3 linked regions of the Homo sapiens genome follow. The protein of the gene in region 1 purifies or fractionates together with the protein of each later gene. This does not show direct contact. Each region holds a gene or a part of one and is shown in the gene's direction. Other genes may lie near its edges.

Evidence for each region.
Region 2: the proteins of RXRA (region 1) and RIPK1 fractionate together in Homo sapiens (co-fractionation; one large-scale study listed by BioGRID). This does not show direct contact.
Region 3: the proteins of RXRA (region 1) and PRMT2 purify together in Homo sapiens (pull-down; one study listed by IntAct). This does not show direct contact.

The regions. Positions count from the first base shown.
Region 1 is NC_000009.12:134,434,323-134,437,787, forward strand, and holds part of RXRA (retinoic acid receptor RXR-alpha), read left to right. Parts: intron 1-2,144; coding exon 2,145-2,292; 3' UTR 2,293-3,465. UniProt on the Homo sapiens protein: Receptor for retinoic acid that acts as a transcription factor.
Region 2 is NC_000006.12:3,106,395-3,110,044, forward strand, and holds part of RIPK1 (receptor-interacting serine/threonine-protein kinase 1), read left to right. Parts: exon of another isoform or gene 1-397; intron 398-1,407; exon of another isoform or gene 1,408-1,503; intron 1,504-2,907; exon of another isoform or gene 2,908-3,002; intron 3,003-3,650. UniProt on the Homo sapiens protein: Serine-threonine kinase which is a key regulator of TNF-mediated apoptosis, necroptosis and inflammatory pathways.
Region 3 is NC_000021.9:46,656,165-46,659,814, forward strand, and holds part of PRMT2 (protein arginine N-methyltransferase 2), read left to right. Parts: intron 1-2,580; coding exon 2,581-2,756; coding exon of another isoform or gene 2,757-2,760; exon of another isoform or gene 2,761-3,650. UniProt on the Homo sapiens protein: Arginine methyltransferase that methylates the guanidino nitrogens of arginyl residues in proteins such as STAT3, FBL, histone H4. Acts as a coactivator (with NCOA2) of the androgen receptor (AR)-mediated transactivation.

The DNA.
Region 1 (3,465 bases):
CCCATGCCAGCAGGTCCTGAGCAGGCAGCAGGAGGTCCTCCAGGCCAGTGGGCTGTGGCGGGCACACCCCACAGGCCCACGTCGTATCCCCACTGGAAGGATTACCTTGCACCTGGCGCATAGTAGGTGCTTCTCTTTGTTCAGTAGATAGATGAAGGCTGTGCTTCACCCCCCACTGCGCTCCCCTACCAAGCAGAACCACCAGAGGCCAGGCGACACCAGCACATAGTAGGTACTTCACAAGCATGTGTAGAATGGATGGCCAGATGCCCACACATACTAAACACTCTCTACAAGTGTGTACGGAATAGGCGGTCACGGCCTGAGCGTAGCGCTCATGTTTCCCCCCTGCCCGGCTGTGGGCCCTGGAAGGGCTGGGGCTCCCTCATTTCTGAGTCCACAGTGCTGGGTGCACAGTAGGTGTCCAGGAAGAGAAACGTTTGTGGATCCCTGCCTGGGATTCAAAGTCAGCGCTCCAGATTCTGCCTCTTCTCTCTAAAGGGGCATCTCCTGGCCTCTTGATCCTCAGACTGTGGGGCGGGGAGGGGGTCGGGGGAGGTGGGGCCCAGCAGACCTCATAGGACACCCAGGCCTTCCCGCCACCAGCACATACACAGTTAACCGTGTCCCCGCTGCCTGCCCAGCCCTCATCTGGCTTGGTTTAAAGTGAAACTTCCCGGAGGACGAGGACAGGAGGGGGTGGCAGGCAGCTTGTTTTTCCTGGCTTTCTGCCCTGGCCCATCTCGCCAGCTCAGCAGAAAACAGCTTGTTCTCTGGCCCAACTCCAGCCTCTGCGCTGTTTTTGCCTTTAAAACAAGGCCTGTGAGGCAGCCAACCACAGAGCTTTTCCCTGAAAGAAAGACTTCGTTAATAATTAATGAGGTCCTGCAGCCCCTGGAGGGGCCGTGTGGAGAGACTCAGGCCGTGCACAGGGGCCCTGGGCAGACACGGCCAGCCGGAAGGGACACCTGGTTCCGTCCCCATAGCACCCTGTCCTCAGCGGCAGCTGCTGCCCTCATGCCTGGCCCTGCTATCCCTCTTCCCAGAGCCCCAGACTTCCCCCCTCCCTCCCGCCCCCCCACTGGTCCCTGCCCCAGGAAACTCCCCAGGGATGGGCCAGGCCCTGAGGACCAACCCGTGCTCCCTCCCTCCCCGGCCAGCCTTCTCTGACCATGCTGTGCCCAATGCCAGCAGAGCTATTTCTGAGGAAGGGGTGGCCCTGGTCTGGGGCCCACAGCCCTGCACAAGGTGCCGTGGGAGGCACTCATGGGGTGCTGATGCTTTATGGAAAGGGTCTTGCACCGTTACACAGCTCCCAAGTCAGGCCTGGCTCCACCTGCAGTGGGGGTGCAGCCTGACTCCCCCTCCCCCGCCTGATGCTCTTTGACTTCTTGGTTGCCCACCATGTGCCGGGCCTGTTCCCTGCGACTCACCAGTGTGCTCAGCAGCCCTTTCCCTTACAAGCCCCGCAGTCTCTTGCTGTGATGGCTGCTGCAGCCAGATGCATTACTGATACTCACACCCGCTCCCGGCTGTCATGGCCCACAGTTTTTCATTTTTTGAGAGACAGTCTGGCTGTGTCGCCCAGGCTGGAGTGCAGTGCTGCGATCGTAGCTCATTGCAGCCTCAACCTCCTGGGCTCAAGCGGTCCTCCCTGCAGGCATGCACCACCACGCCTTGCTACTGTTTTTCTCTTTTTCTTTTGTAGAGACAGGGTCTCACTGCGTTGCCCAGGCTGGTCTCGAACTCCTGGCCTCAAGCCATCCTCCCACCTCGGCCTCTCAAAGTGCTGAGATTACAAGTGTGAGCCATCATGCCCAACTGCCTGCAATTTTTAACTTCTTCACAAAGAGCTATTCAGTCTGCCCTAGCCAGCTGCTGTCTGGCCCCTGGCCCTTCATCTCCGTCCTCAGACCCAGGGATCTCCCTTCACTCTGTCCTGGCTCTGGGTTGCCACTGCCTCTGTTTCCTTCTAGCCTCCCCTCCTTCCTTCTGGAGGCTTGGCATAGGCAGATTCAGGGCTACAGACCAGCCTCAGAGGGGTTGGGGTATCAGACACAGCCCCATCCCCAGGGAGGCCTCCAGTGCCAGGGCAGAACTGCCCATGCCCCTTGCCCGGCCCTCACCAGACCTGTTCCCTGCAGGTTCGCTAAGCTCTTGCTCCGCCTGCCGGCTCTGCGCTCCATCGGGCTCAAATGCCTGGAACATCTCTTCTTCTTCAAGCTCATCGGGGACACACCCATTGACACCTTCCTTATGGAGATGCTGGAGGCGCCGCACCAAATGACTTAGGCCTGCGGGCCCATCCTTTGTGCCCACCCGTTCTGGCCACCCTGCCTGGACGCCAGCTGTTCTTCTCAGCCTGAGCCCTGTCCCTGCCCTTCTCTGCCTGGCCTGTTTGGACTTTGGGGCACAGCCTGTCACTGCTCTGCCTAAGAGATGTGTTGTCACCCTCCTTATTTCTGTTACTACTTGTCTGTGGCCCAGGGCAGTGGCTTTCCTGAGGCAGCAGCCTTCGTGGCAAGAACTAGCGTGAGCCCAGCCAGGCGCCTCCCCACCGGGCTCTCAGGACACCCTGCCACACCCCACGGGGCTTGGGCGACTACAGGGTCTTCGGGCCCCAGCCCTGGAGCTGCAGGAGTTGGGAACGGGGCTTTTGTTTCCGTTGCTGTTTATCGATGCTGGTTTTCAGAATTCCTGTGTGGCCCTCCTGTCTGGAGTGACATCTTCATCTGCTCTGAATACTGGTGCCCAGCCAGCCCGTGACAGCTTCCCCCTAATCAGGAGGGGACAGCTGGGGGCGCAAGCTGGTGTGTCATCAGCAAAGACCTCAGCCGCCTCGGGGATGAGAGGGGACTCGTGGGGCAAGCAAGCTGCCCTGTGCTCTGAGTGAGGGGGAAGGTAGCCCCTTTTTCCAAAGATAACTCACAGTTTTGCCCTCGAGCCAATGAGAACATGAGCTGCCCTCTGTGCAAGGTTTCGGGGCCACCTCCAGGCTGCAGGGGCGGGTCACTCACCCCCCTGTTTTCTCTCTGCCTTGGTGTTCTGGTTTCAGACTCCCGACTCCCCGTTCAGACCAGAGTGCCCCGGCCCCTCCCCAGCCTGAGTCTTCTCCTTGCTCTGCGGGGTGGGCTGAGGCTTGTCCTTGTTTCCTGCAGGGCTGGCCCTGGCTCGGGCAGGGTGGGGCATCACCACCTCACTGGCCTTGCTGGAGGCACAGGGCTCTGCGGACCTGCAGCCATCTGTGAGGCCCGCGGGGATGGGAGGGGAGGAGGGTGGCCTGTTGGTTTCCCTCAGAGGGGGCAGGTGGCCTGGAGAGAGAGGGGCTCAGGAACTGGGAGCCTCGTGGGTGGGGCAGATGCTCCGCGGCCTGGAGTGGCTCTGCCGGGGCATTGGTGGGACCCCTGCTCAGGCCTTCTCTCTGGCTGCCAGTTGTGTCTAAAAGACTCTTGGAATCTGAGAACC
Region 2 (3,650 bases), on another chromosome or scaffold:
CTTTTTGAAGGTAAGAAATCAGTCTTGGATATTTTTGTTTCTGACCTTATATAGCTCAAAGACTACCATTAGTGATGAAAAATTTTCTTTTAACTCCCATATCTCTATCAGGTGAAGTAAAAGGTAGGTGATAGTAGTTACTGGCAGTCTAGAATGGAAGTGAGTTAATGTAATATCCAGCATTTTTATCAAATAATACTCACCAACATCACCTTAACTACCTGAACAGCATCTACCAATGATACCCACAGGTGTCCTGGAGATCTTGAAATCATCTCAGGTAGAGGAAGCTTTCAGAACCACAGAGCTTAGTTACATTTTCTTTCAAAAGGCCAAATTCTCCAAAAACGTCCTATGCAAACATCCTCGATTTCTTCCATAGGTTTTATGATAAGATCTGTAGAATGCAAAATATTGGATTAGACATTAAGCAGTATCCAAGTCATGTATAATCCTATGAGCAGAATGTCCTTTTGTTTCCTTCATGTTGGGGATAAAATTTTTTATTAGTATTGCCATATCATTTTATTCATTCATGATTAAGTCAATAAAAATTTCAGCTGGGGCCATGGTTGGCCAGGTGTGGTGGCTTATGCCTGTAATCTCAGCACTTTGGGAGGCTGAGGTGAGTGGATCACTTGAGGCCAGGAGTTCGAGACCAGCCTGGCTAACATGGTAAAACCCTGTCTCTACTAAATAATACAAAAATTAGCCAGGCGTGGTGGCGCATGCCTTTAGCCCCAGCTACTAGGGAGGCTGAGGCAGGAGAATCACTTGAACCCTGGAGACAGACGTTGCAGTGAGCTGAGATCATGCCACTGCACTCCAGCCTGGGCAACAGAGTGAGATTGTGTCTCGAAAAAAAAAAAAAAATTCCACTGGCTGGGCACAGTGGCTCACGCCTGTAATTCCAGCACTTTGGGAGGCCGAGGTGGGAAGATCACGAGGTCAGGAGATTGAGACCATCCTGGCTAACACGGTGAAACCCCGTCTCTACTAAAAATACAAAAAAAAAAAAAAAAAAGCTGGGCATAGTGGCGTGCGCCTGTAATCCCAGCTACTTGGGAGGGTGAGGCAGGAGAATCACTTGAACCCGGGAGGCAGAGGTTGCAGTAAGCCGAGATTGCACCACTGCACTCCAGCCTGGGTGACAGAGCGAGACTGTCGCAAAAAAAAAAAAAAAAAAAAAAAAATTCCAAAACTCTTCCCACTTTGTGACGTGCAGTTCTCCAGGCACTGGAGCTATAACTGAACAAACAGCCTGAGTCCCTTCCCTCACACAGTTTAAATCCTAGTGGACAGAAGGCAGACCCTAAACCAATATTTAATGTGTCATTTTTTATCTTTTTTCTACATGAGCAACCCAAATACACCCGTTTAGTGCCAGAAATCTCTTTGTGTTTTCACCTCGTTCTGGTTCCTGGTTCTGCCAGTGACAGATGTACAGGGATGCAGCTTCTTCAGGGTTCTGAGATGCTTTCAGTGGGAAAGGGGCGCTTGGATCTACAATAGATAATAGAATTTTCTGTGTTTCTGCTCCCAAAGATGATCCTGCCAGGTACTAAGCTAGTAAATGAACACGCTGAGTTTCTCCTTGCAAATTTAAATAAGTCTTCTGCTTGCTTTTATCATCAAAAAGTCCTAACTCTATACCAAAATATGAGTTTTCTAATTTGCCATACCATAGAAGAAGGGTGTGTATGCAGTAAGTACAAAAGGAAAATAAATGTCTTCCTTTCAGTGAAAGAGCTCTTAGACCCACTGCTTTTTATTCACTGTGCTGCTTGAAGTGAGGTTAGAAAAGGAAAGCTCACTGGGCTAAGAGTCAGGAGACCCAGGTCTAGTCCTGCTTGTGCCGGTCACTATATGGGTGACTTTGGGAAAGTCATTTGCCTCTCCAGAGTTCATTCTCCTCAATTATAAATGAAAATGTTACAACTGAAAATTTATATATTATCAGCTCTAGTATGTTTCTAGTATTGCATTCGTTTCTCCACTTCGTAACTTTCATGGTTTTTCCAGTGGTCAGATTTGGGCAGAAAGCACTGATTCAAGAACACAGATTTCCAAGTAGAGAGGTGCAGGGTAAATAAACCTCCATGTAAGCCCGCGGTGAGCGCAGACTGTGAGTGACGAACACGGTGTCAGTGTAAGCTGGAGGTGGTGGGCCAGGAGGATTAAACAGGGTAAGGCAGCTTACCACTGTGCCTGGCGATGCGCAGAGTAAGTGCTCAGTAAACGGTAGCTGCTGTTATTAGCACTGTTATTATCATTGTCAGCAAAGAACACCTAGACAGCCTTGAGCACTGGAAGGCACCTCAGAGACTGTCACAGGGGTTCCTTGCTAGGATTCCAAGGACCCCAGTTTCAGCAGCTTCACGAACACCCTGAATTGCACACAGATGGCGTGTGTGTGCACATCCTATATTTCTTACACCTTTCAGTAGAGAGGGTCCCTAGTTTCCTTGGCTTCCTCAGAGAAAATGTAACAAATGAGCACAGTGCCTGGTCCAGAGGGTGGCCTACCTTAGGGCCAGGTGTGCTGACGGAGGTACCTTGAGCTGATACTCATTTCCCTCCCTCCTCAGAACTGTCTTCTCAACCACCTTCTCTCTCCTACAAAGATATGCCAAGTGCTCTTTAGGGACAGTACCAACACTTGACAAATTCAGCTCAGCATGAATGTCATTGAGCCCATGCCCCGTACCAAGGCCCAGGCTAGCGAGTGTAAGGAGTACAAAAACAAGTGGGTGTGGTCGCTGCCCTTGGGACTCACATTCTAGTGGAGAAGTCAAACAGACCCAGCTCAGATACAGAGCGGCGCAGGGCAGAGTGCTGAGTCTAGGATTACAGTGCAGGCTCATGGAAGGAGGTGGAATTTGTGCTGGGCCTATGTCAGAAACTCACAAGCAGGGAGAAGCACGTGGGGAGGTCAGCAGTCCAGGCAGAGGCAGGAGCATCATGTCAGCAGATCGGTGGGAAATCTGGTGGGACTGGAGTCTCTGGAGTGGAGACAGGGAGGAAACAGTGAAAGGAAGATCAGAGACAAGAGGGTAGGGCAGAGCTGTGGCTAGCTTCTGAATACTGAACCTGAGAGGTTTGAGTTTATCAGGTAAAGGAGGAGGACCCTTCACAGATGCTGTTCAGAGTCGTGGGATCCCGCTGGGAAGTGTGGCTGAGCTTTGCTGTGTTGTTCATCCACTTCTGTTTTCTGACTTGGTGTTAGCCACATTTTTTTATGGTAAAATTCAAAAACATAAAATTTACCATTTCAACCATTTTTACAGTGGCATTATCTAACATTCACAGTGTTATGCAACCATCACCACCATCTATCTATATAACTGTTTTAATCTTGCAAAACTAAAACTCTGTATCCATTAAACACCAACTCCCCAGCTCCCCTCCCAGCCCCGGACAACCACCATTCTACTCTCTGTTTCTGTGACTCTGACCAGTCTAGGTACCTCATGTGAGTGGAACCATGCAGCATTTTTCTTTGTGGCTGGCTTCATTCACTTAGGAAATGTCCTCAAGCTTCATGCATGTTGTAGCATGTGATGTGATTCCCTTCCTTTTCAAGGCTGACTATTCCATTGTGTAGCTAGACCACAGTTGGGTTATCCACTCATCTGCTCATGGGTGCCTGG
Region 3 (3,650 bases), on another chromosome or scaffold:
AGCCTGGCACGCCCACTTGCCTCTGCTCCCACCCTGTGGTCTCTGCACGTGCCAGCTCCCCTTTGCTTTCCACCGTGAGGGGAAATAGCCTGAAGCCCTCACTGGATGCCCAATCCTGAACTTTCCCAACCAGCAGAACCATGAGCCAAATAAACCTCATTTCTTTATAAATTACCCAGCCTCAGATATTCCTTTTTGGCAACACAAAAATGGACTAAGAGAACTAGAGTAGCTGATAGAATTTTTTAAAAGAAGGGTAAAGTTGGAGGAACTATACTACTTGATTTTGAAGCTACAGTAATCAGGACAATGTGGTGAAGGGACAGACACGTAAGTCAATGGAATGGAGACGAGAGATTTCTACAAATATGGTCAATGGGTTTTTTTTAACAAAGGTACAAAAATCAATTTAATGGAGAAAAGACAGTCTTTTCAGCAAATGTTACTGGAATAGTTGTCATCCATATCTAAAAAACAACACCTCAACCTCACATCTCATACACAGCTGAACTTAAAATTGATCATAGATCTAAGTGTGTGAAATGTAAAACTATAAACCTCCTTGAAAAAATCATAGAAAATCTTCATCACCTGGACTTGGGCAAAGACTTTTTACTCTAAAAGCGTGATCCATAGCAGAAAATGTTGATAAATTGAATTTCATCAAAACTAAAAATGACTGCTCTGCAAAAGGATGATGCTAAGAGAATAAAAAAGACAAGCTAAGATTAGGAGAAAATATTGCAAAGAACATATCCAGTGTGTGTTCTGAATATACAGAGAAATCTCAAAACTCAACAGGAAGAAAACAAGCCAATTGAAAATGGGCAAAATACTTGAACAGACACTTTACCAAAGTGGATATACAGATATCAAATACACACATGAAAAGATGTTCAGCATAGCCATCAGGGAAATGCACATTAAAGCCACAGTGAGATATCACTTACACCCATTGAAAAATGACTACAATAAAAAAAAAATCTGATAGTAATACCAACTGTCATCGAGGATGAGGAACAGCTGAAAGTCATGCATTGCTGGAGGGAACATGCCACTGTGGAAACAGGTGGGTGCTTTCTTATAGACTTGTATGTGCACTCACCTTATGCCCAGGAGTCCCTCTCCTGTGTGTTCAACCCAGAGATATGCAAGCTGTGTTCACACAAAAACCTGTATGTGAATGATTATACTAGCTCTCTTTATAATTGCAAAAAAAAAAAAAACAAAACCTGGAAACAACCCAAGTGTCCTTCATCTGGATAATCCTTAAGGATAAACTGGTGCGTCCACACAGTGGAATACCACTGAGCAGTGAAGAGGAGCCAGTTATTGAAACAGGTAATTTGGAGGAACCCCAGAAACGGTACAGTGAGTGAAAGAAACTTGTCTTGAAAGGTTATGTACTGTTTGGTTCCATTTGTATGATATTCTCAAAAAGACACAAGACCATGGGGATGGAGACCAGATCGGTGGCTGGAGAGGCTGGGGTCGGGGAGGGCATGACCACCAGAGAAAAGGGTGAAGAGTGTTTTGGGTGGCAGAGCTGTGTGTATGCTGGCTGTGGTTGTGAGGACAAAATCCACACAAGCGCTCAAGTTCGTAGGCTGTACGCCAGAAAAGCTGTTTCACTACATAACTGAAAAAATAAGATTGAAAAATAAGATGTATATATTTTTTGTGTGCGTGTGTAGAAAAATACTTGAAGGTAAACTGCAGAGTGATAACAGTGGTTCCTTCTAGGTACTGGGTTAATATGTGATTTTTATGTTTGTTTGAGCTTTTCTAAGTTTTCTACATTTTCCGTACAAAACATGTATTACTTCTGTAATAAAAGCAGCTTGAGATTATTTAAGGAAGCAAAACACTTCTGTTGTTTCTCATCAACTACAGGATGAAGTGCAGGCTCCCTGGGTGGTTTGCAGGGGCCACAGGCCTTGGCCCCACCTCGCTGGTGCTCCCTCTACTCCTTTCTGTGTTTGAAGCAAGTTCTGGTTCAGACAGAAAGCCTGGCCTTTGAGGGCGTTGGGTCCCCACTTCCTCAGTCATAGATGTGATGTGCTTCCCTTGACTTGGGACCTTCTGAGGGATGCAAGGTGGACCAAAGGACCCGTGAATGGCCAGGGCATGCCTGCGTGGCTTTCGGTTTCTTAAGCAGTGATTTCAGTCCACTTAAAGGGTGTGAAAATTCTGAGAATGCTACGGACCAAATATATTTTATGTAACAGTTGGGACCCGGCAACACTTCAGGGCTCTTTCAAAATCTGGTAGCTACGAGCTCTTCCGTGACTGAGATGGGACAAGAGTGAAGATTTGTCCTTGCTTTTAGCTCTGCTCCAGTTCATAGTTCTAATGGGAAATTATGTGACTTAAACCCAGGCTGTGAGATGCATCAGTGACGTGTGGGCATAAAATAAACCCTCGAGATGTTCTCTTGCATGGTACACTGGCCTAGGCAGGAATATTCTTGAGGCTAAAACTGTAGAACTGTCAGACTAGTGTTACGAATGTGGTGGTGAGAGGCCTGTGCAGCCGCGGGGCCTGTGATGTGTCTCCTGTGTGTCTTTCACTCCTATGCAGTTTGAGTTCATGATCGAGTCCATCCTGTATGCCCGGGATGCCTGGCTGAAGGAGGACGGGGTCATTTGGCCCACCATGGCTGCGTTGCACCTTGTGCCCTGCAGTGCTGATAAGGATTATCGTAGCAAGGTGCTCTTCTGGGACAACGCGTACGAGTTCAACCTCAGCGCTCTGAAGTAAGTGTCCACAGCTGGGACTGGCACCGTCTTGTGGGGCCTCCTGGTCCACAGTCTGCAGGTGGGCCAAGGCCCTGGGAGATCCCATACGACGGTTGGATAAATGAGGGTACCTGTGCACCCAGATAGGACAATCTGTTGTAGCATTGGAGTAATTAAAGCAGTATGGTGCTATAACAAGACAGATGGGCAGAGCAGGGTAGAATGCAAGGAACAAAAATTTTCGTATGTGAAAAAGGTGGCATTACGATTAGGAGGGAGTGAGGGCCAAGTCAGCAAATTATTCTGGAGCAGTTGATTAGCCCTTGTTCTCTCACGCCATACGTGAAAACTTAATTCTGCATGGAATCAGCGTCAGCGACAGACATCCATGGGGGCCTGTGTGCACCATCTTAGGTGGAGAAATGAGCAGCAACAATGGATGGAATGGACCCTGGGCTAGATAGAATCTGGCAGTCTATGTGGCAGAAATCAGCAAAAACACGATTGTAAAAGCAAACAAGTAATTAGAGAAATCACGTGCTGTCAGGTCTTGGAATCAATTAGAAAGAGATGACTAGCCAGATGGAATTGCAGCCCAATCATGTGAACAGGCAAACCGCAAAAAATAAATAAAATTACCAATAAATATATGAAAAATTATAATGTTGTTAGTAGTTAAAATGCGAATTAAAATACATGCTGTTTTCCCTACCAGACAAGCAAAGAGTAAATTAAAATAGTAGCCCAGGCTTGCCTGGCAGTGGCAGGGAGGTGTGGCTGCCAGGGCCTTAGAGGTTGGCATCAGGCTGCCCACCCCAGTCACTGCCAGAGCCTCCCACCTGAGTGTTCCTCCCGGCACTGGAAGCCAGTGGCCGTCCAGAGGAACGTGATTGAATTGCTGTATATCCATCT